Linked DNA regions of Homo sapiens: regions 2, 3, 4 and 5 are each reported to be linked to region 1. The links are microRNA targets in miRTarBase. Many come from high-throughput screens and were not tested one by one. Region 1 holds a microRNA gene; each other region holds the end of a gene's coding sequence.

Region 1 (4,116 bases):
GGCTGTTGGAGGCTACAGCATCCTCAACGGGGGAGCGGGGCTCTGGGTGGGGCCTGTGATTTTGGCCTCCAAGCCCCCTCCCAGGTCCCTGTCTCCTCCAAGTTTGTCCTGGGCAGGGGCCCCAACTCTCCACCTTGGGAGGGGCCCTCTGTCGTCACTGGCGGGGGCGCCAAGCCATCTGGACCTCATTACCCCAACCCTGGCCTCCCCCACCATGGGGGCCCCTGGAAGGGATGGAGTGTGCAGTGGCATGGGGTGCGGGTGGGGGGTGGCTTCCTGCCGGTCTCTCTGCAGGCTCCCTAGATGCCCCCATGGGTTTGGGGTCTCCCATGTTGAGGTTCCTTACTCAGGGCCAGGGAGACCATGTGACCTGGGGCTGAGGGCCGGAGACCGGGTGACACTGTGGGGGAGGGGCACGTGCCACTGAGGGGGTCCCCTGATCTCATGCCTGAGCCTGCAGGCCTTTCTGGAGCTTTTGTGTACATCTGAGTTAAGTCGTGTGCGAAAACAGCTCTGAGAATCATATGTGGGGAGATGGGAGTCAGCTGTGGGCTGTGGGTGCTGGGAGGCGGGGTGTGTTTGTGTGTGTGTGTGTGTGTGTGTGTGTGGCTTGTGGGTCTGGTGTGTGGGTGTTTTTTAGGAGTGTGATTGGAGTATAAGCATCTAGGTGTGTTTGGAATATGTGGTCTGCATTTGCATCTGGGGGTGAAATCTGTGTGCCTGGGGAGTGACTCTGGGCACCTGCCTGTGCTTGGGGTGTAAAAGCAGGTGTGTGTGGGGAGGGGGCTCTAGGAGGGAGGGTGTGAGTATGGGGTGTTTGAGAATCTGTGTATGTCTTTGGGATGTGAGGATGGGGGGAGTGTTCCAGTTGTGAGGGTGTGTATGGGTGTGTGTGCATGCACTTGTGTGTGTCCGTGTGGGACATGGGTGTGAGATTGAAAGTGTGGGGGTGCTCATGTGTGTGAGTTCTGGGGCTGTGAGTGTCAAGGTGCGTGTGTGTTGAATGTGAGTGGATTCTTGCACTAGGACCACTGGGGATGTGGAGGTGGTCCAGGCTGGTGGGAGAGTGGTCTGTACTTCTCTACTCAACCACCAGCCCTCAGGTTTTGGGGTGAGGGAGGCTCTTTGGGCAGACCGGCGGCTGCCCACATCCCCAGTCCCCATTGACCCCCCCATCCTCTCAGTCTTCCTCGGCCACCCTTCCCCCATCACCGCTACCCCCAACCAGTCCCACACAGGGTGGCACCCCCATCCATCTGTGCCTCCTCCCAGCCCGCCCTGTGCCCCAACCCCCTGGCTCCAGGCTCCGGTTCTGGGATGGCAGGCAGGGGTCGGTCCAGCTCTCCAGTGGCGGCGGTGCCGAGGGTCTAACCCAGCCCAGCCTAACCAATGTGCAGACTACTGTACAATTTGGGAGTCCTGAACAGATAGTCTAAACACTGGGTAGACGGAGTGGAGGTGTCCTCTGGTCCATCCAGGCAGCAGTGTCTGTCCATCCGGTGGGCGCTTCAGCCCCATCCCCTGGAGATCCGAGAACCCCCCAACCCCAGCCTGTGTCCCCCTAGCCCCAGACCAGCCAGCCCGTGGTCCCCTCTCTGCTCCCAACTCCCCTTCTGCCTCCTTTGACGTGGCAGGGGTGAGCGGGAGCTGGGGCTGAGAAGGAGGGGCCTGAGGAGGGGGCCGGCCGGCAGGAAGGGAGGGGTGGGGGGAGGAGGCCGCTCCTACCTAGTGTCCAACCCCGAAGCACAGGGCGGGTGGTGGCGGGGCCTCTCTCGAACGGTTCCAGATGTTCCCTGGCCGTGTGTGCAACTTCCTCCTCTCCTCCCCCAGCCGCCCTCTGGGGCTCCCGGCCACCCGCCTGGCATAAAGAGGGCTTTATGTGGCTGCATGGGCCAGGGGGGCGTTGGGGGCAGAGAGGGGTGGGCGGGATGACGCCAGGACGGGGGAGCAAGGTCCCCCTAAACCCAGCCCCCCACCTGAGATCCTAGGCAAGGCTCATGCCCAACCTCTTTGAGTCCCCGAGGCCCACACAGACGACCCCCGTGAACAAGTAGGGCATGGGTGACAAAAACCCCTCCCCTCTCCCAGAGCCCCATCCTGGGGTACCTCCTCCCTAGATCCCTGAACCCCTCCCCTGGGACACAGCAGCCTACATACACATGTGCCCACACCGAGCACACACATGGGCCTAGCACCCCACACGCCTGTGCACAGATACACATAACTCCTCCCAGACAGCTCTAGATAAATCAAACACACAGCCCATTGTACCACGGTGTGCAGGTAAGATGTGTACCCCAGTATAAGTCCACAGGCATGGCTCTGCAAACATGTAGGCTCGCACAATTGCCACACACATCCACAAAGTGTGCACACATCCACACTGAGATGCAGACACGCTGACACCGACACATGGTTCATGCTGGGCACCTCCCCAGATACACATGTGCACACACACACAATAGCTGATAGGATATGTACTTGGGCTTGCATGTGTTGGCACAAACACACAACTACACACATGTTGCACACACAGGCACACCATCTCCAGGCTTGTGCTGGCTGCCTTATTGCTAACACATGGGGAGCTCGGGGGAGTGGGCTGAGCCGGCCCTTTGAAGCCGCCGGGTCTGGTGGCCCCCCTTCCTGGTCTCTGCAGTCAGGAAATGAAGTCAGAGGCGGCCAGGCCGGGGGTGAGAGAGGCCTGAGTGTGCGGTCCCTGCCTGAGGCTGGCCTGGCTTGTATCCAGGACTTGCCTGGGGAGGGATTTTGGGAGCCACTCTCAGCCTCCCCACCCCTCACCAGCCCCCTGGCCCCCGGCATATATGCAGAGCTGGTAGGACTGGCTCTGCGGGGGTCGGCGGTGCCCAGGAGGCCTACGGTCCGTGGCCAGGCTTTTATCTAGCTGCACCTTCGCAGTGGGAGGGGGCTGATGCTTAGAAGCCCTGGGCCAGTCAGGGGGACTCTTAGAGAGTGAGGTGTGGCAGAGAACAGTGCCAACCTCACCCCATTGCTCCTACCTGCACCCACAGGAGAAAGAGAAGAAATACATGCTGTCTGTGGACAACCTCAAGCTGCGGGACGTGGAGAAGGGCTTTATGTCGAGCAAGCATATCTTTGCCCTCTTTAACACGGAGCAGAGGTGCCTGCCTGCCCCTGGCTGTGGCTGCTGCAGCCCCAAAACCACCCTCACTGAGTAGAAGCTGGGTACAGGGATCCAGGGAGGAGAGGAACCTCCCCTAGGCCCCACAGCAAGCCATCCACTGACAGATGCTTATTGAGTTCCTGCTTTGAGCTAGACATCATGTCAAGATCTCCCATCCCCTCCCCTTCCCTTCCCTCCTCCTTCCCTCCCTCTTTTCCTTCCTCCCTTCCTTCCTTCCATCCTCCCTCCTTTCCTCCCTCCCTCCCTTCCTCCCTTCCTTCCATTCTCCCCTTCCCTCCCTCCCTCCGTCCCTTCCTCCCTTCCATAGTCACTGGTATAGTGCATGCTCTTCATGAGACACTCTGCCAGGCACTGGAGCCAAAGGGCCCTAGTCAGGCCTGGTCCTCTTCTCCTGCTCTCTTTCCTATAGGGTGGTGGCAGTACTAGTCCTCTTCCTTCCTGACCCAAGGCTGACTCTAGTGGGCCCTCTGCTACTCGGAGATGAGAGTTCAGTCCAGCGGCCATCAGAGGGGTCCTTAGAGAGCCACGGAGAAAGCTGGTGGGATCTGGGCCCCAAGCTAGAGACTTCACTGACTATGGTTGTCCTCTTGTCAAAGGTCCAGTCCCCTTCTAAGCATTTTACCACTCACTTCACTGAATCCTCAGTGACCCAAGGAGGCAGGAATTATTATTAACCCATCTTCCCAGTGAGGAAACTGAGGCTGAGAGGAAGGGACTTGCACAGGGTCACACAGCTGGGAAATGAGCTGGCCTCAGGCATGTTGACCCCAAAGTCTGGGCATGCCCTTAACCCCCAGGGAGGGTCAGACTTTGCCCATCTGCCCTCACTGCCTGCCCTATCTTGCAGGAATGTCTACAAGGATTATCGGCAGCTGGAGCTAGCCTGTGAGACACAGGAGGAGGTGGACAGCTGGAAGGCCTCCTTCCTGAGGGCTGGCGTGTACCCTGAG
Region 2 (4,116 bases), not on the chromosome of region 1:
ACTAGGAGTAGACTTACTGAGACAGCTGACACTACACACGTTAAGGCTTTTGGCATCTGAGAAGCGTAGGCCATCTCAACAGAATACCTGACAATGTTCTGGAGACATCTGGTAGGCAGGAGGCCTGGGGCCGGGCTCTGGTTCCTGCCATGCTCTGCAGGGATGTTGCCCCTGAGGGGATCAGCGTCTTCACCATGGACATGGGAGTGTGGGATCGGCTCAGCTGCAAGGGTTCTGTCAGTATTAGCTGGGATTCCCACTCTGTCTCTCTCTCCCGTTTCCAGGTGACCTCACGGTGGACATTCCGATGCCCAGGATGCCCTCAGGCCCTGTCTCATGATGACTCCCACTTCCACGAGCGGCACAAGTGCATCAACTTCTTCGTGAAGGTGTACGGCTACATGCCCCTCCTGTACACGCAGTTCAGGGTGGATTCTGTGCTCTTCAAGACACGCCTGCCCCATGACAAGACCAAGTGCTTCAAGTTCATCTAGGGGCAGCGCACGGTCTGGGGAAGAGGATGAGCAGAGGGAGGAAGATGGCTCCCAAGGTTCCTAGGCATTGCAGGACCTTGGGCACATCTGCTGGTGGGTGGCCCAGAGCCTCTGCTGGAAGGGGCAGCAGGAGGAGTGGAAGGAAACCGCTGCCTTTATCTTGAAGTCAGCCACACTGGGCCTGGAGCCCTGGGCGGAGTCCCCGGGGTTCCCCACACAGGGCACTGACTGATAGCTTACACTGAGGACTGTGGCGACTCTGCAGAGTCACTCACACCGTTCGTACGCCCAGGACAGCTGGTTCGTGGTTTTTACATTCAATAACAACTATTATGATTATTTAAAAAGAGAAAGTTTCAGATTTGCCATTCAAGGCTTATTTATATATATGTGTGTGTATATAAATACATGCACACACTTGCATACATATATATTTTTGGCTGGGGGAGTGTGAGTTTTGCCTTTCTAAGGGAGGGACCGCGCAGGCTCCTTTGTTCTGTATTCTGGCGGAGATGGGTCCTGGCCTTGTGTCACTGGCTTATCCTTAAAGATCATCTCCCATCCTCCCCAGCGCCATCTGTGTGCAGCAACCAGAAAGGGATGAACTTGGCCCTCTTGCGGGCCTGGACAAGGTCTCTTCCTTACCCTTTCTGTTGCCAGTCAGCAACCTGTAACTCACATTCTCTTCCCAGTGAATCCCTGGGAGCGCCTGACCCTGGTGGGCTGTTCAGCTTCCTGCTGCTGGGGCCAGCGATTTTTGAGGATTTATCTTTAGGCCAGGCTTGCCTCCGTACTTATCCCTGCTCTCCCATTTCTCTCTTGTTTGAGAGAGAATGAGGAAGCAAAGAGTGAGAAAGAATAGGGGCTGAAGACGCCACTCCCAGATGGCTCTTTCTATCCTGCTCTTCTGTTGAAACACACGTGCTGTGGGCCTCAGGCGTTTCTGAAGTGCTCTTTCTTGGATTGGACAGGAGATCAGCAGCGTGCACATCTGCTGTGGTCTGAAGTGGTTTGCAGGTCAGCCTCCTCTCCCTAGTGTAGAGCAAGCCAGTGTCCTTCGAGGAACCCACCCGGCTGGCCGGGAAGTTTTACAGCAAGGCGCCTGCCTTGGGATAATTCCTTGGTGAAATTCACCTTCCCCCCGCCTCTGTCTGGAGCCCCATCCTGTGTTATCTGTGGTTTTTGGACCCCTAATGTCAGCTTGGCTGTAGGACTCCCCGAGGTTTGGTATGTGCTAGAACAATGGGAGGCTGTGATTTGCTGTGTAAGCTCACATCCAGCCTTGGAATCTAACGGGCATTCACAACCCGAGTTACCACTTTCCACTCCCTGCTTAGGATTCTGTTCCCTGGGCTGAAACTGAAATAAGCTAATTTTTTGGGTCACGGTGGCAGTAGGGGAACCTAGGAGGGTGTGAGTGGCATTTGTCAGGGATTTAGCCCATGACGTGTTTCTTGAACCCTACTTTCTGGAAGTGGAGTTGACTCTGGAAGTTTTCTAGCAACTGAACAAAAGCTCAGGTTTGTCCTGGTCATGCACATGCCTTAAGCCAGTTCCGTCTTCCCTAGACCTTGGCATCCTGTGCTTCTATTTCTTGGAATACGTTCTCCTCTGACCTGCCTGTACCACGTGGGTCCTCTTCAAGTACTGTTTTGAAGCTGGGCTCTTTTGTGTAGCTCCCACCCACCTGTAGGGCTAGCTCGGCTTAAGGGAACTCTCCCCATTGGCAAACCGGACCCGGCCGCCGCCAGGACTGTGTTTCCAAAGGTTCCCCGCCCCCAACCCCAGCATCAGCCTGTAGCTCCCCTGCTGAGGCAGTGTGGTTATGTTCCCAGCAGTGGGGGTCAGACGCCCTTCCTCAGAACTTTCTAGTTGCCCTCTACCTGACTCCTGACTTGTATTCCTTTTAGCAGTAGCCTTCTTCCCTCGGGGAGCCAAAGAGTGTGGTGTGTGGCGCTATATTGTGGCTGCTATTTCATCTGGTTTCTTTTAATGTGAGGAACTCACATACTGACTTCAGTGGGACTCGGTGAGCCGGGGCCGTCTGTGTGGTGGGACCCCCTTTAGCGGGACTCAGTGAGCTGGGGCCGTCTGTGTGGTGGAGCCAGGGCCTCTCCCTTTAGTGGAGCCAGGTTGTCGGGCCCCGAATGTCACTGGTGGATCTAAGAAGGGCTGAGTGGTCTGACACCAAAACATGCCGCAGGGAGGGCTGTGGTGCCGGTGCTTCCAACAAGGACAGCCCTCCTTGACCCTGAAAGGAACACTGGCTTGAAGGACTGCAGACAGGCTCTGAGGGGCACGCCCTCCTCAGCGAGAGGCAGCAAGGTGGCCACAGTGTCACTGGTCAGGTGCTTCTCACCACGGGAAAGCCGCCGACCTGTGACTCGCTTGAGATGGGAAAGCGGCGCCACAGACCCCGGGTCTCCTTGGCTGTCTGTGGGCCGCCCCTGGCCACCTTGTCCTGGCTCGCAGGGTGCAGGAGCGCCTCGTTCTCTGGGTGGCCGGCTTGCTGCTCCGGTTTGGGCTGTCTTACCATAACACCGTCCCAGGGCTCTGCAGGCCACTGTGAGCGCTGGCTCCCTGGGCAGTGCTCCTCCGTGTGGACTGTGCCTCAGGCCAGGGCTCACCAGCTGGGGTCCTGTCCGGAAGGATGGGATCTTTCTGGGAGCTGCGCCGGACAGAGTGGGGAGCTCCTAGTTTGTGGGGGGAAGCTTTGATATCCATGCCACGTCCATCCACCCCACCCCTTTTCGTCACGAGCACAATGGTCTTACATTGGATTTTTGTAAAAAAATAAAAATAAATGGAGACTTTAACTCAAGCAGCTTGGAGGTCTTTTGTGGTTTTCCTCAGCAAGTATGGAAGAGTGACCTGAGAGAAGGCACCTGCTTGATTGCTTGATTCCAGGTCGCCACCTGTGTATGCCAGCTGGGCCTGCTCGCAGAAGACGATGGGAGGCAGCCTGACCAGGCCCTGGTGTGGGCTGTGGACCAGAGATGGGTGAACAGACTCACACTCACATGGGCAGCCTTGCCTGTGCCCGGTTCCAGGGCAAGTCATTTTGACAAAACAGGAACTTAGGGGCTGTTGAGGTGCTTTAAGCAGGATGTGGAAGGGCATGTGGCCCATATATGCAAAGTTAATTTTTTCATGGGAATTTAAAATGCGTGTGTGTGTGTGTGTGTGTGTGTGTGTAGTGGTTGTGGGGAGCTGTGTGTGCCTGCGATCCCAGGACAGGTGAGGCCTCACTGTGAATGGCTCGATTCGGTCCATAGGTCATGCCCCTGACCTATAGGTCACTAAGGCACCTGTACCTGCACCGAGCTGACGCTCCCTGACTGCAGAGCCCCATCCTGTTGGTGCCCACAGGCCTAGATCTTGTGCTTGGCTGTGGGATCAGAGGCTTCCTCAGGAGAGGGCACTGAGCTGTGGGCTTCGGGGAGAAGGATGGAGATGGGAAAGGGGGTAAAGGCGAGGACTCCTCTCCTGGGCTCTGCAGGTGGCAGCTTTGGTCACACTGACAGTCCTAAGAATGGGTGAGACTTAACAGTCGGTGTCCCTCCTCAAGTGGGGTTCACGACTGATCAGGCAAGTTTGCAGCAGCTGATGGGTGAGATGTCAT
Region 3 (4,116 bases), not on the chromosome of region 1:
AACACCTGTGCATCTGAGGTGGGAATGCCCTCACATTCCCTGTTTTAAACACAGGACTTACTGCCTGGGTTCTGATTTGACAAGCTTCACCAGCGGTCTCTATCCTGTCTTCTAGAGGCCAGCACTTTGTGCTGCTCTGAACACTGAGTAAGCATGGACCAGGCCAAAAGCTACTGTTATGCTGAAATTGCTAAGGCCTATGTGCCAAACCAAGAACCAGAGCCCAAGGAGTAGAGCAGTTATTGGGTGGGGTGGGTTGAAAGTGCAGTTGGAGTTGGAGAAGCAAGATGGCAGGTGGATTGGTGTCTTGCTGTCCTTAAGGCATGTGTGTTTATTGTCATTAACCTTACAGGTCAGTCCTGCAAGAAACATTTCCTCGGCTGGATCCTCCACCTCCCATAACCAGAAAGCGAACCCCTCGGGCCCTGAAGACCACCCAGGACATGCTGATTTCATCACAGCCTGTCCTCAGCAGTCTGGAGTATGGGACAGAGCCATCACCTGGGCAGGCCCAGGACTCCGCTCCCACTGCCCAGCCTGACGTCCCAGCAGACGCTTCACAGCCAGAGGCCACCATGGAAAGAGAAGAGAGAGGCAAAGTTCTGCCCAATGGAGAGGTTTCCCTGTCAGTACCTGACCTAATCCACAAGGATAGCCAGGACGAATCCAAGCTAAAGATGACTGAGTGCAGAAGGGCCTCCTCCCCCAGCCTTATCGAGAGGAATGGCTTCAAACTCAGCTTGAGCCCCATCAGCCTGGCTGAGTCCTGGGAGGATGGCAGCCCCCCTCCTCAGGCACGGACCTCCAGCCTCGACAATGAGGGCCCTCACCCAGACCTGCTGTCCTTTGAATAGAGCCTCTGCTCTTTCCTGCTGAGCTCTGCCCTTGTCTTCCTGCTGCTTTCTCCTCCACTGCGCACACTGGCCCTGGCCTCAACTCCGCTGTGCCCTTTGTCTTCCTTGTATGAGGCACCAGCAGAGAGCCAGTCGTCCATCATGGGATTTTGCAGGACTGGAAGTCCTTGAGTAGTTCTAGTTAAAGAGTCTATCCGCAGAATGGCTGAAGGACTTGATGCCGTTTTGAGCCTAATTTTCTGTAACCTCCTCTGAGTGGGCTGCAGCCCTTGGACATTAGAGCTCTTCCACTCTTGAGCTTGTCCTGTCTTCTCAGTGAATTGCAGGGCCACCAGCTCAGGACAATGGATCTTACAGGAATTCTTTTTGCCTGTCCCCTACATGCGCCTCCTCCCCTGCTGTTCTCCCTCCCACACCCCTGTCCCTTCTCTCTCCTCCTTGATGGGTCCGATGCCCCTGGCCTCAGCGGGAGGAAGGCTGGATGAGGAATGATGTGTTTGGCTTGATGACAGGCCATGGCCTAGAAAGCCACACACCCTGACCACAGCCCAGCCATAGCTCCTCTTGGTCCCAGGACAGTGCAGGCCCCTGGTTGCCATGTTTGCTCTGCCCCTGGGGTGGAGGCCAGAGGAGATGCTTACCAGGCCTGAGACCTTGAGAGTTCACCCAGGGTTTGAACGCTGCCACCCAGGGTTCCCAAGGTTTCTCCCATCTGGTCAGATGTCGAACACAAAATGTGGGCATTCTGCACGGAAGGAAAGATCAGGCTTCTCTTGCTGAGTGTGTGAAGACAGGGAGAGCCAGGCCCCAGCAGATGCGGCCTAGCACACTCTGATTTGGTTTTGTGGGGAGGGCCCAGGAACTTGGGGGTGGTCTTGGCATTCAGAGCTGGTGCTAAAAACCCAGAGCAGAAGCAGGGAGAAGGGAGTGAGGATGGGACAGAGAAGAGCGACCACTGGGGATCAGAACAGCTTTTCAGGGGCCACCTTGCAGCCTAAAATAATGCCGTTTCAGGGCCTGGGCCTGCTGTGAGAGCCAGAATGAAGCATGTACAAGATTGGAATGTGAGAAGAACTGTGGGGGGAAACCAGTTTTAATTAAGTGGAAGTGCTTTGTGCTTGTGCTGAAGTTGCCTGGGCCTCCTGCAGCTCTGGACCTCACTGGAGCGGCCCCGCCCTGCCCTTGCCTGCCTTTCTTTTATGCTGATGCTGGTGGGCTTTTTCCTGCTTCAGGATCCATGTAAGGGACTGACCAGGTTCATCCAGCCTTAACTGGTTCCTGCAACCCACTTTTAGGTCTCCCACCAGGGGCCTATTGTGCTGTCTTCCTGTGACCAGCAGATCCTGTAAGGGGGTGATCCTAATTCTGGGGCTCTTTGCAGCAAGAGGAGAACGTTCTTTTTCTTGAACAAGGTGGCCGGTTCCCTGGGAGAAGGCTGGGAATGGCACGTCCGGCCAGGGCAGGCGGTGCGGCATCCTCCTCCTGGGATTCCTGTGGCCTCCCCTGTTCTATTCATTGTTTGGCTTCCCACCCATAAGCTCTGGGATACCCAGGGCTTGCTTCCCAGCTCTTCTCATCTCCAAGCCTCTGCTCCCCTTCCCACCACCACTGCCATATAAAATGGCCATGCTAACTCCTACACAACTAGGAGCCTCAGCAGGATTGCTAGGATGTGGGTTCCTTCCTGCATGCTTGCTTCTGCAGCTGTGTGGCCTTGCCATGGCCCTCCCACCACTTTCCCTTCTACCTTGCCTTCCATTGTCTTCCTTCTCCCAGAAAGCCAGGTTTCACCACGTGCTCACCACAAACTGTCTCCCCTCCCTCGTAGGAGTCACTGCAGTAGGGCACCTGCAGGCCCTGGTAGAGTGAGCAGGGCTTACGTGTACATTCTTTCTCACTCTAAGGATGTGATATCTGACCCTGATGTCAGAGAGGAGGTCTCAGGACTAGCATTCGGGGTCCTTTGAGTGTTCCCAGAATGGTTTGGGGTATCACACAAAACACCAGAGCTGAGGATAGGGATAGAGTCCCCAAACACACATCCTGGGAGCAAGCCACTTCATCTGAGCTTCCCATACCAGGAGCATGGTTTGTGCTTTGATGGGAAACCTAGCAAGCCCCTGCACTCTGGGGCTTCTCCTCTCCTGGAGCCCAGGGCGGCTCTGGCCCGATGATATGGCAGCCATAGGTACAGGTATTGCAGGTGCAGCCTTTCTTAAGTACCCTGCCTCCACTCTATAGCCCAGCTGCTGCTGGAGTCCAGGACCTTAGACCCAGGATGAGCAAAAGGATCCCACCAGGTTGTCCAGGACCATTGCCAGGGTGACCCCAGAGTTCTTCAGACCTGTGTCTGATACTGAATACAGTGCCATGGGACCCTGCTCCAATCTAACTGCCTACAACCTGCCCGTCCCCCTGCTGCAGGGATGTTGCTGCTACCTCGGGAGGCTCTCTGAGACTGGTGTCTGGTCTTAGATGCTGCACATAGTACCTGGTGCTAGGGTCTAGGGGCTGCCCAAAGCCCAGCAGGAACAGCTACTACTCATCCTGCAGAGGCCTTGGCCCAGACCAGCTTTCCATCCAAAGCCTCACCTGGTTTCCATGTCCATCTCAACAGTCTGGCCTTCCTGTGACTGTAGCCTGGCAGCCACACCCTCAGTAATCCCGCACAGTGAGTCCAGCTTCTCTGGGAGCTTGGCCTTCAGTTAGCCCAGTCCATGAGAGGGCAGGGTAATGAGGAGGAGTAAAGGACCTATCTTCTCTGTCCACATAAGGAAGTTGGGACCACAAGGTCTTTTATCTCCTTGTTACTCCCCAACCCCACCATAACCTCCTACTCAGCACACAGCTGTATCCTGGTAGATTATAAGGTGAGCTTCCAGAACCTGGCAGGAGGCTGGTGTATCCCCCTGCACAGAGGGAAGTGTATCTGAATGTTGTGTATGTGGCTGATATGGAAGACATACATGTATGCAATCCATCAGCGTTTAAAGAAGAAGATTGGCTCCAGTTCGGAGGAGGAGGAGGAAGATTACAGATCTATTCTGAGTATTTTTTAGAGAGTTAATATTTATATTTTTAGTAATTTTCTGGTAGAAGGAAATTGCACAATAAAATGATTTGGTTTGGTTTGCTGGCTTTGTCTGTTTTTCCTCCTGACTGATGGGGAGCAGTTGGTTTCCTCAAGGCTGACTTGTTGGCTGAAGTATGTTGGCATTTTCCTTTGTAAGCCTGGAAAAGTGAGAAATGAGGGAGGTAGAAT
Region 4 (4,116 bases), not on the chromosome of region 1:
TCTGTCCCCAACCAACAGTTAAGGATCAAACTCAAATAAACTTCAGTTGTGTTCTGCCGAGAAGACGATAGCTTGGTGTTGGTTCTGAGTTTGGTGTTGGTGGCTGCATATCTGTAGCATCAGTGTGATCAGGGGGCTGAGAGGAAGAGTTCAGTGTCTAAGGTTTATCTGCATTTGGATTTTGAGGAACAGCTTTGTGTTGAATCTCATATCTTTTCCTTCTCAGGCCCCCACAGAACACCTGAACTCAAATGAGATGCCGGAGGACAGCAGCACTCCCGAAGAGATGCCACCTCCAGAGCCCCCAGAGCCACCACAGGAGGCAGCTGAAGCTGAGAAGTAGCCTATCTATGGAAGAGACTTTTGTTTGTGTTTAATTAGGGCTATGAGAGATTTCAGGTGAGAAGTTAAACCTGAGACAGAGAGCAAGTAAGCTGTCCCTTTTAACTGTTTTTCTTTGGTCTTTAGTCACCCAGTTGCACACTGGCATTTTCTTGCTGCAAGCTTTTTTAAATTTCTGAACTCAAGGCAGTGGCAGAAGATGTCAGTCACCTCTGATAACTGGAAAAATGGGTCTCTTGGGCCCTGGCACTGGTTCTCCATGGCCTCAGCCACAGGGTCCCCTTGGACCCCCTCTCTTCCCTCCAGATCCCAGCCCTCCTGCTTGGGGTCACTGGTCTCATTCTGGGGCTAAAAGTTTTTGAGACTGGCTCAAATCCTCCCAAGCTGCTGCACGTGCTGAGTCCAGAGGCAGTCACAGAGACCTCTGGCCAGGGGATCCTAACTGGGTTCTTGGGGTCTTCAGGACTGAAGAGGAGGGAGAGTGGGGTCAGAAGATTCTCCTGGCCACCAAGTGCCAGCATTGCCCACAAATCCTTTTAGGAATGGGACAGGTACCTTCCACTTGTTGTATTTATTAGTGTAGCTTCTCCTTTGTCTCCCATCCACTCTGACACCTAAGCCCCACTCTTTTCCCATTAGATATATGTAAGTAGTTGTAGTAGAGATAATAATTGACATTTCTCGTAGACTACCCAGAAACTTTTTTAATACCTGTGCCATTCTCAATAAGAATTTATGAGATGCCAGCGGCATAGCCCTTCACACTCTCTGTCTCATCTCTCCTCCTTTCTCATTAGCCCCTTTTAATTTGTTTTTCCTTTTGACTCCTGCTCCCATTAGGAGCAGGAATGGCAGTAATAAAAGTCTGCACTTTGGTCATTTCTTTTCCTCAGAGGAAGCCTGAGTGCTCACTTAAACACTATCCCCTCAGACTCCCTGTGTGAGGCCTGCAGAGGCCCTGAATGCACAAATGGGAAACCAAGGCACAGAGAGGCTCTCCTCTCCTCTCCTCTCCCCCGATGTACCCTCAAAAAAAAAAAAATGCTAACCAGTTCTTCCATTAAGCCTCGGCTGAGTGAGGGAAAGCCCAGCACTGCTGCCCTCTCGGGTAACTCACCCTAAGGCCTCGGCCCACCTCTGGCTATGGTAACCACACTGGGGGCTTCCTCCAAGCCCCGCTCTTCCAGCACTTCCACCGGCAGAGTCCCAGAGCCACTTCACCCTGGGGGTGGGCTGTGGCCCCCAGTCAGCTCTGCTCAGGACCTGCTCTATTTCAGGGAAGAAGATTTATGTATTATATGTGGCTATATTTCCTAGAGCACCTGTGTTTTCCTCTTTCTAAGCCAGGGTCCTGTCTGGATGACTTATGCGGTGGGGGAGTGTAAACCAGAACTTTTCATCTATTTGAAGGCGATTAAACTGTGTCTAATGCAAACTTCCTGCCTCCTCCTTCCCCCTTCCATTTCAAGAATATGTTTGTGTGTAGGGTGGGGGTGGGGGTTGGAAGGGGTTGCTTGTTACTCCCCAAACTTCCATTAACCAGGGCACCCTTGGGTTGGAGAGGTAGTTCCAAACTCTCCATTGATCTATACTACATTCTGGGCTGAAGGTTTTCTTATTCTGGACTATGAAGAAAGGACTTTCAAGGAGATATAGTGTGAACAGGATCAGGAAGGTAGAGGGATTATATTTACTTAAGAGAACAAGCTCTATATTAGGATATTGTTTTGAAGCAGATGGATGCCGTTAATTGCTAATAAGTCTTAGTTATTAACGCAGGCTCATCAGGGCCCCCCCTTGGAAATATTTGATCAGTGGTCTTTTACAAGTGATGGTATATATTTCTTTCTAGGTGGTGTATAATCAAGACTCCCTATCAATTCCCATCTCATACTTCCCAGTTAATTGGAATTAATGAAATTTGGCTGCTCCCAGACCTTTTTCCATGTCTTCCTTTTTCCTTTTAACAGGATTTAAGTTGAGCATTCTTGAGAGAGAGAGAGAGAGAGAGATTGGAAGAGAGATGGGGAGAGACTGACTCAGATCCCTCTCCTGTCTGCTTCTTTTTCTGGTTCTCTCAGTTTTTTTTCTTGAAGTTATAAAGCCAAACCTGGAGAATTTGTAAGTTGTTAGGTTTCCCCAGGTAACTTGGCACTCATATGAACCCCATTTTAATAAGTACTCAGCCCATCTCCTCTCCTGGGCTCAGATGGCTCTCTCTCCTCCCTCACCTTACCTCAAGTGTTCTCCTGAGGACCCTTAGGTCAGACAGAGAAGCTTTCTCTTTCTGATGGGAAGGGTCAAAGTGGAAATCTCTTATCTCTAGTGTGAAATGATTTTCTGCTTTTTCATACTCCCTGCCCTCTTTCTTTTCCTTAATAAATCTTCCATGTTTAAGATGTTGGCCTGAAGATCTGTCCCATTCATACCATGCACCAGCTGGGACTGTCCCTATCTGATCAGAGGGGAGATTAAAGAATCAATGTTCCCAGGGGAAAAGGGCCTTAAATTGTTTGGTCTTTTCAATGGCTGACACTGTCTCCAACTCTCCCCTTCCTCCTTCTTCCTCAAGCTTCCTATGCACCCTACTTTCCCAGGCCAGGATGGTTGGCACTGATCCCAAACCTCTGGGGGCAGGTGGAAATTGGCTGTGGTGAGCCATTTCTTCATGTCCATTCAGCTCTGAGGCCTTCCTGGCCCTAGCTGAGATCATCATCTCCTCCTTTGCTTTTACCCCAGGAGTGAGGTTGGGTTAGAGGTGGATTCTGATTCCGTAGCAGCTAAATTCCATTCTCCCTGTCCTGACCATCCTGCCTTTACCCATAAAGCACCCGTTCCTACTGACCAAATCTCTTTACTTTGTTGGAGAAAAAAAGTATTTTGTTTTTAAATCTATTTTCTAATTTAAATGCAATTTAATATGTAAATCTCTGCACTTTTGTGTGAGCCTACAAATGTGTATGTGTTGGGGGTTTTTCACTCTCTGGTATTTCTTAATAAAGAAATCTTTCTTTTGGGGGGAAGCCAATTAATGAAGGAGCCTTGAATGGTTTTAGAAATACAGGGCTGTCTGTTTCTTTGTGCTTCTGCCTCATTTCTTTACTTGTGCCTAGTGTGAGTGATTGGACTCCCTCCCCCACCTTTTGACCCCCTTCCTCTGAGAGGGCCCTCAACTTAGTGGGGGCAGAGAGAAGGACCTGTCCTGTATCTGGTACCCCTCTGGGACCACTTGGATTGGCTCTAGTAGTAACCTAGCAACCCAGCCCCCTCCCCTCTCCCCATGGCCTGGCCCTGTTAGTCCTTTTCTTCCAGCTCAGTTCATTTTATACTCCTGAGTTGGGGCCAGGCCAGGGGAAATCACCAAGGGAGCACAGTAAATGGTTTTAAAAAAATGATAATTCGTTCTCATGCCTTGGTGCTACTAAAGAAGAGTCATGTTCCCAGTAATTCAAAAAGCATTTGTGTCAGTTTGGAGAATACATTCTAGGAATCTCTTGCTGTTCTTGGTGATAGGCTTTAGAAACAGTGTCAAAGGCTACAACTCTGAATATCATTTGTTTTAAAGGATGCAAGCCCAGCTCACAGAAAAAAGAATCATTATAAACTTTATATTTGGGATTAATATGAAAGGGCAATGGGAACTGCAAATCTACATCAGTAAAACTTTCAATGTTCTGTACGTTAATGTAGGTGGAAAAACCTGGTATAATTAGCTAGACCTAATTATTTTACAAATGAACACAAAATGTTTTTACAGTTTTAATATATACACTG
Region 5 (4,116 bases), not on the chromosome of region 1:
CAACCGACGTACAAACCTTACTAAGCATCAAAAACTTCATGCTGAAGCAAAGGCCTGCACAAGCAATAAATGTGGAAAGGCCTTCAGTAAAAGTGAAGACAGTAATAATCCAACACTCCATTTTGGAAACAATTTCTATCAATGTGTTAACTGTGGAAAATCCTTCAACCGGAGCTCCTCTCTTATTCGACACCAAATGATTCACACGGGAGAGAAACCATTCAAATGTAAGGAATGTAGTAAAGCCTTCAACAGGAGTTCAAACCTTGTTAAACATCAAAAACTGCATACTCGAGATAAGTCCTGAAAAAAGAAAAAATGAAAGATTACCTTCAGTCAGAATGCAGAACTCATTTAACATCATGAATTTATGCTGGATAAAATCTCATGAATATAATGTAAGAAAACATTTGTCAGATTTTTCTTTAAATGATATCACAGAATTAATGTTGGATAGAAATATCATTGGATAGAAATCTGTTTGAAGGAATTTTCCTGGTTTTCAGATGAAGCCATAAGGCTTTGGAGTTAAACCACAGTATCACCATACAAGTATTTGTTTATCATTATTTTGATATCCATTACCCTCACCTCTCCCTAGTTCATAAATAGGTCTATAGCATACTAATATCCACCTGATTTATTGACGAAGTAGACATTAGGCAAAGCCAAACAATACTCTTGGAGTTGATATTTAATAAAACTCAGCCCTTTTAAGAAGGTCACAAGAAATCATTAGCTCATGCGAATATAAGAGAATACTTCTAAGGACAGAAATCTCTGAATCAATGGCTAAGACAACAGTAACAGCCATTTACTCCACTCCTGACAATACCCTTTGTTGTCTTGCTGTTGAATGGAGACTAGAGTTGGGAAAGGGTTATCAACTGCAATGGGAGAAGTATGTATTGCTGTTAATCTATATGTATTCTTAAAATCTGCATTTGTTTATAGCAGGTCCTTGAAAAATGTTTTTGTTTTGTTATAATGTTATAATTGTTATGATGTTGATGAGAAAAATATCGATTCCCAGCCAGGGACACTGTGTGGAGTTCGCACACTCTCCCTATGTCTCCGGGTGCTCCAGTTTCAAACCCCAAAGATGTATACATTAGGTTAATTGACATATCTAAATTATCTCAGTCTGAGTTTGTGAGGAAGTGTGCCCTGCAGTGGAATGGCTCCTAATCAGGGTTTGTTCCCACCATTGCCCTGAGCTGCTAGGATGCGCTCTGTCCACCCATGGCCCTGTACTGGAATAACAGGGTAAATAATTATCTTATCTGTTTTTATTAATCCGTCTTAAATGTGTATATAGCTCAGATTTATTTTAATGTCTGATATTGGAAGCGTTTGGGGTCTTTAGAAGTTTGATGATGTTGTGACCAGACATTTGCCTTAGGAACTTAACTCTTGTTTGTATCCATTAGTCTATGGTAAAATTGGTTTTGTTATACATCATTTCACTTAAAGTTGCAGTTCCTAAGAACCTATTGATGATGTTCAGTGCAGACTTACTGTACCTTTGGGAATTTAGGCTGGAGAGACGTCCATAGCCTTAGGTATATCATTTATACCAGACATTATGAAGTTATTAAAGTCTCCTATACTCTGTACACCAGAACTGTGTCTTCTGTAAACTACCTCAGGATCCCATCTGGTTCTTGAGCCAAGAAGTATGACTTAATCTGCCCCAAAAAATTCACACTGGAGACATTCCCAATTAATGATGATGGTAGCTTTTTGTGAAGGTTCATACCTTATTCAAAGGCAGAAAAGGTATACTGGAGTGAACTCCTATGATTAAATAATGTCAAAATCTATGTTTGTTCATCCTTTATATTGCAACACAAGTTTTATTAGGACAAAGCCCTACATAAGTAATTGATATAGAAATTCGTATAAACAAGAGATAACTTGTAGAGAAGCCTAACAAGAGAAAAGCACTCTGAATGTAAAAAATTCTTGAGGTATGTTCATTCATCATAGTACTTACATTAAATACAATGGATTCTGACTTTTTAAATTTAGGTATTCCAAGTCCAATATTTCAATTTTTGAAAATAAGCTGTGATTTTCTTTTGGATGGTTGAAAGATAGAAGTACTATTTTCACTCTTTATCTTTTCTTTGAACAACTAGCTATTTGAGCCTAAGTAAAATACTTATTTTTTTCTCCTAAATCTCCAAGCTTTCTTAAAAAAGTGTTTACTATGTTCACTAAGTTTAACATAACATAGTTTCAAATAATAATTTTTGGAGTGCATTTAAAGCTCTTGCAGAGCATTTATAGCCAATTAACATCTTCTCGCAGCCTTGTTTCACAAGCCTGTTTATTTAGTACATTGTATTAGCGTTCTCTAGAGGGACAGAACCAATAGGATAAATGTATATATAAAGGGGAGTTTATTAAGGAGTATTGATTTACACTGTCACAAAGTGAGGTCCCACAATAGGCTGCCTGCAAGCTGAGGAGCAAGGAAGCCAAGTCCCAATTTTACATAAGAGTCCAAGTCCCAAAACCTCAAAAGTAGGGAAGCTGACAGCGCAGCCTTCAGTCTGTGGTTGAAGGTCCAAGAGTCCCAAAGCTGAACTCGGAGTCTGATGTTCAAGGGTAGGAAGCATCCGGAACTGGACGAAGTAGTAGGCTGGAAGACTAAGCCAGTCTAGTCGTTCCAATTTCTCCTGCCTTTTATTTTGGCCACACTGGCAGCTGATTAGATTGTGTCCACCCAGATTGAGGGTCGGTCTGCCTTTCCCAGTCCACTGACTCAAATGTTAATCTCCTTTGGCAACACCCTCACAGTCACACTCGGGAACAATACTTTGCATCCTTCAATCCAATCAAGTTGGCACTCAATATTAATCATCACATATTTGAGTTTTACTATATACCATCAAAGGTCGATATCTAAGCTGAAACATGAAGAGTGTAGATTAACCAGATTGTGTCTGGCAAGTGTGGAAATGTTAGGAGAGATGATAAAGGCAAAACGAGGGGCACAAAGCTATAAAGGGATGAGGGCATGGCAAGTTCAGGAAACATAAGTTCATCTACTAGAATACAGCATTGGGAAAGAATGGAGCTTTCATTTCATAGAGGTAAAGCTACAGAGAGACTCAAGGGGCACATCATGAGAGGTCTTGTAAGCCACTTTAGAAGTTTGAGCTTCAGCCTAAAGGTAATAGTGAGATAAAATTGTTGTTAATTCCATGTTTAGTACTCTGAAAATGCTAATTGAAGTAACAAGATAAAACTCCAAAGGAGGAGAAAATCATTTGCTGCTGATATGGTTGACTCATGACAACCTAATAAAATTCGTTGAAAAACTGTTAGATTTAATAAATGAATTTAGATAAGGTAAATATAGCAACTTTGCTCAAAAATAATCTTGAATAAGAGGAAAGCTGTGTCTGGAATGAGAAGACTACTATAGAGATTTTGAGTCTCCACACATTAAACTACAAATGAAAAATTCTAATCAGATATTCAATGGGGAGGATTTATTTCACAAAGTGATTATAAAGTTTACTTTGTAGAAGTAAGAAAATAGCTGTGACCATTTTTTTAAAAGCAAGGTAATGAGAACATTACTAGTAACATAGTGTGATACTAGTCTATTCACATGTGTGAGACAATTGTTTATAACTAGACCTAGGTGTTTATAAGAATTTAGCATATCGTAAATTGTCACTTCAAATTAGAGTGGAAACTATTCAATATTTACATATATATCATATACAGATGTATACATATATGAATATATATGATATATGTTGATATATTTTTTGAAAATTTGACCATGCTGTGGAAAACTGGTCTAAAAAGTTAAATGCCAATCTCAACCAATAAACAAGGGAAATGTTCTATTTTCACTAATACTAAAAAACTTAAAGATCACATATTGGGCTGATAGACAACATATAAAAGGAATAATAACACTCAGTTTTAGTGGGACTCTTAAGAAATGTAACTCACATGCCACTATGGGAATGCAAATAATTACTAACTTTCTGGAGGGCCAACTTGACAATATATATTGAGAGCGTTTAAAAAGTCAAGTTACAGGAGGGAACAGCGCAAGTTAGGATTCAAAAAATCACAAGACCATATGAG

Evidence for each region. Region 1 holds the annotated microRNA hsa-miR-199b-5p (CCCAGUGUUUAGACUAUCUGUUC, at 1,422-1,444, opposite strand). A microRNA usually pairs through its seed, bases 2 to 8, with sites in the 3' UTR of a target mRNA and lowers its output. Matches are read on the target gene's strand: a 7mer-m8 pairs with bases 2 to 8, a 7mer-A1 pairs with bases 2 to 7 and ends in A, and an 8mer does both.
Region 2: miRTarBase lists EXTL3 as a target of hsa-miR-199b-5p. Seed matches in the 3' UTR shown: 7mer-m8 at 667-673 and 7mer-m8 at 2,755-2,761.
Region 3: the mRNA of C1orf226 is a reported target of hsa-miR-199b-5p. Seed matches in the 3' UTR shown: 7mer-m8 at 918-924 and 7mer-A1 at 2,013-2,019.
Region 4: miRTarBase lists ZDHHC9 as a target of hsa-miR-199b-5p. Seed matches in the 3' UTR shown: 7mer-m8 at 481-487 and 7mer-m8 at 1,495-1,501.
Region 5: the mRNA of ZNF215 is a reported target of hsa-miR-199b-5p. Seed matches in the 3' UTR shown: 8mer at 1,705-1,712.

What each region holds. Positions count from the first base shown.
Region 1 is chr9:128,243,362-128,247,477 of GRCh38, forward strand. MIR199B (microRNA 199b) reads right to left here and starts at 1,469; the gene lies at 1,360-1,469. DNM1 (dynamin 1) reads left to right here. Exons shown (of 22, transcript NM_004408.4): 16 at 3,033-3,142; 17 at 4,014-4,116. MIR3154 (microRNA 3154) reads right to left here and starts at 1,669; the gene lies at 1,586-1,669.
Region 2 is chr8:28,750,373-28,754,488 of GRCh38, forward strand. It overlaps EXTL3 (exostosin like glycosyltransferase 3), which reads left to right. Exons shown (of 7, transcript NM_001440.4): 7 at 285-4,116. The coding sequence ends at 494. Among named protein-coding and RNA genes, the nearest start is that of EXTL3, 51 kb to the left of the region's middle. RefSeq lists enhancers at 1,401-2,345, 2,346-3,288.
Region 3 is chr1:162,382,830-162,386,945 of GRCh38, forward strand. C1orf226 (chromosome 1 open reading frame 226) reads left to right here. Exons shown (of 2, transcript NM_001085375.2): 2 at 353-3,983. The coding sequence ends at 854. Among named protein-coding and RNA genes, the nearest start is that of C1orf226, 3.2 kb to the left of the region's middle.
Region 4 is chrX:129,802,597-129,806,712 of GRCh38, reverse strand. ZDHHC9 (zDHHC palmitoyltransferase 9) reads left to right here. Exons shown (of 11, transcript NM_016032.4): 11 at 227-3,425. The coding sequence ends at 343. Among named protein-coding and RNA genes, the nearest start is that of SASH3, 25 kb to the right of the region's middle.
Region 5 is chr11:6,956,225-6,960,340 of GRCh38, forward strand. It overlaps ZNF215 (zinc finger protein 215), which reads left to right. Exons shown (of 7, transcript NM_013250.4): 7 at 1-1,823. The coding sequence ends at 307. It overlaps LOC102724711 (a long non-coding RNA gene), which reads right to left. Exons shown (of 3, transcript XR_002957236.2): 2 at 17-303. Among named protein-coding and RNA genes, the nearest start is that of ZNF215, 32 kb to the left of the region's middle.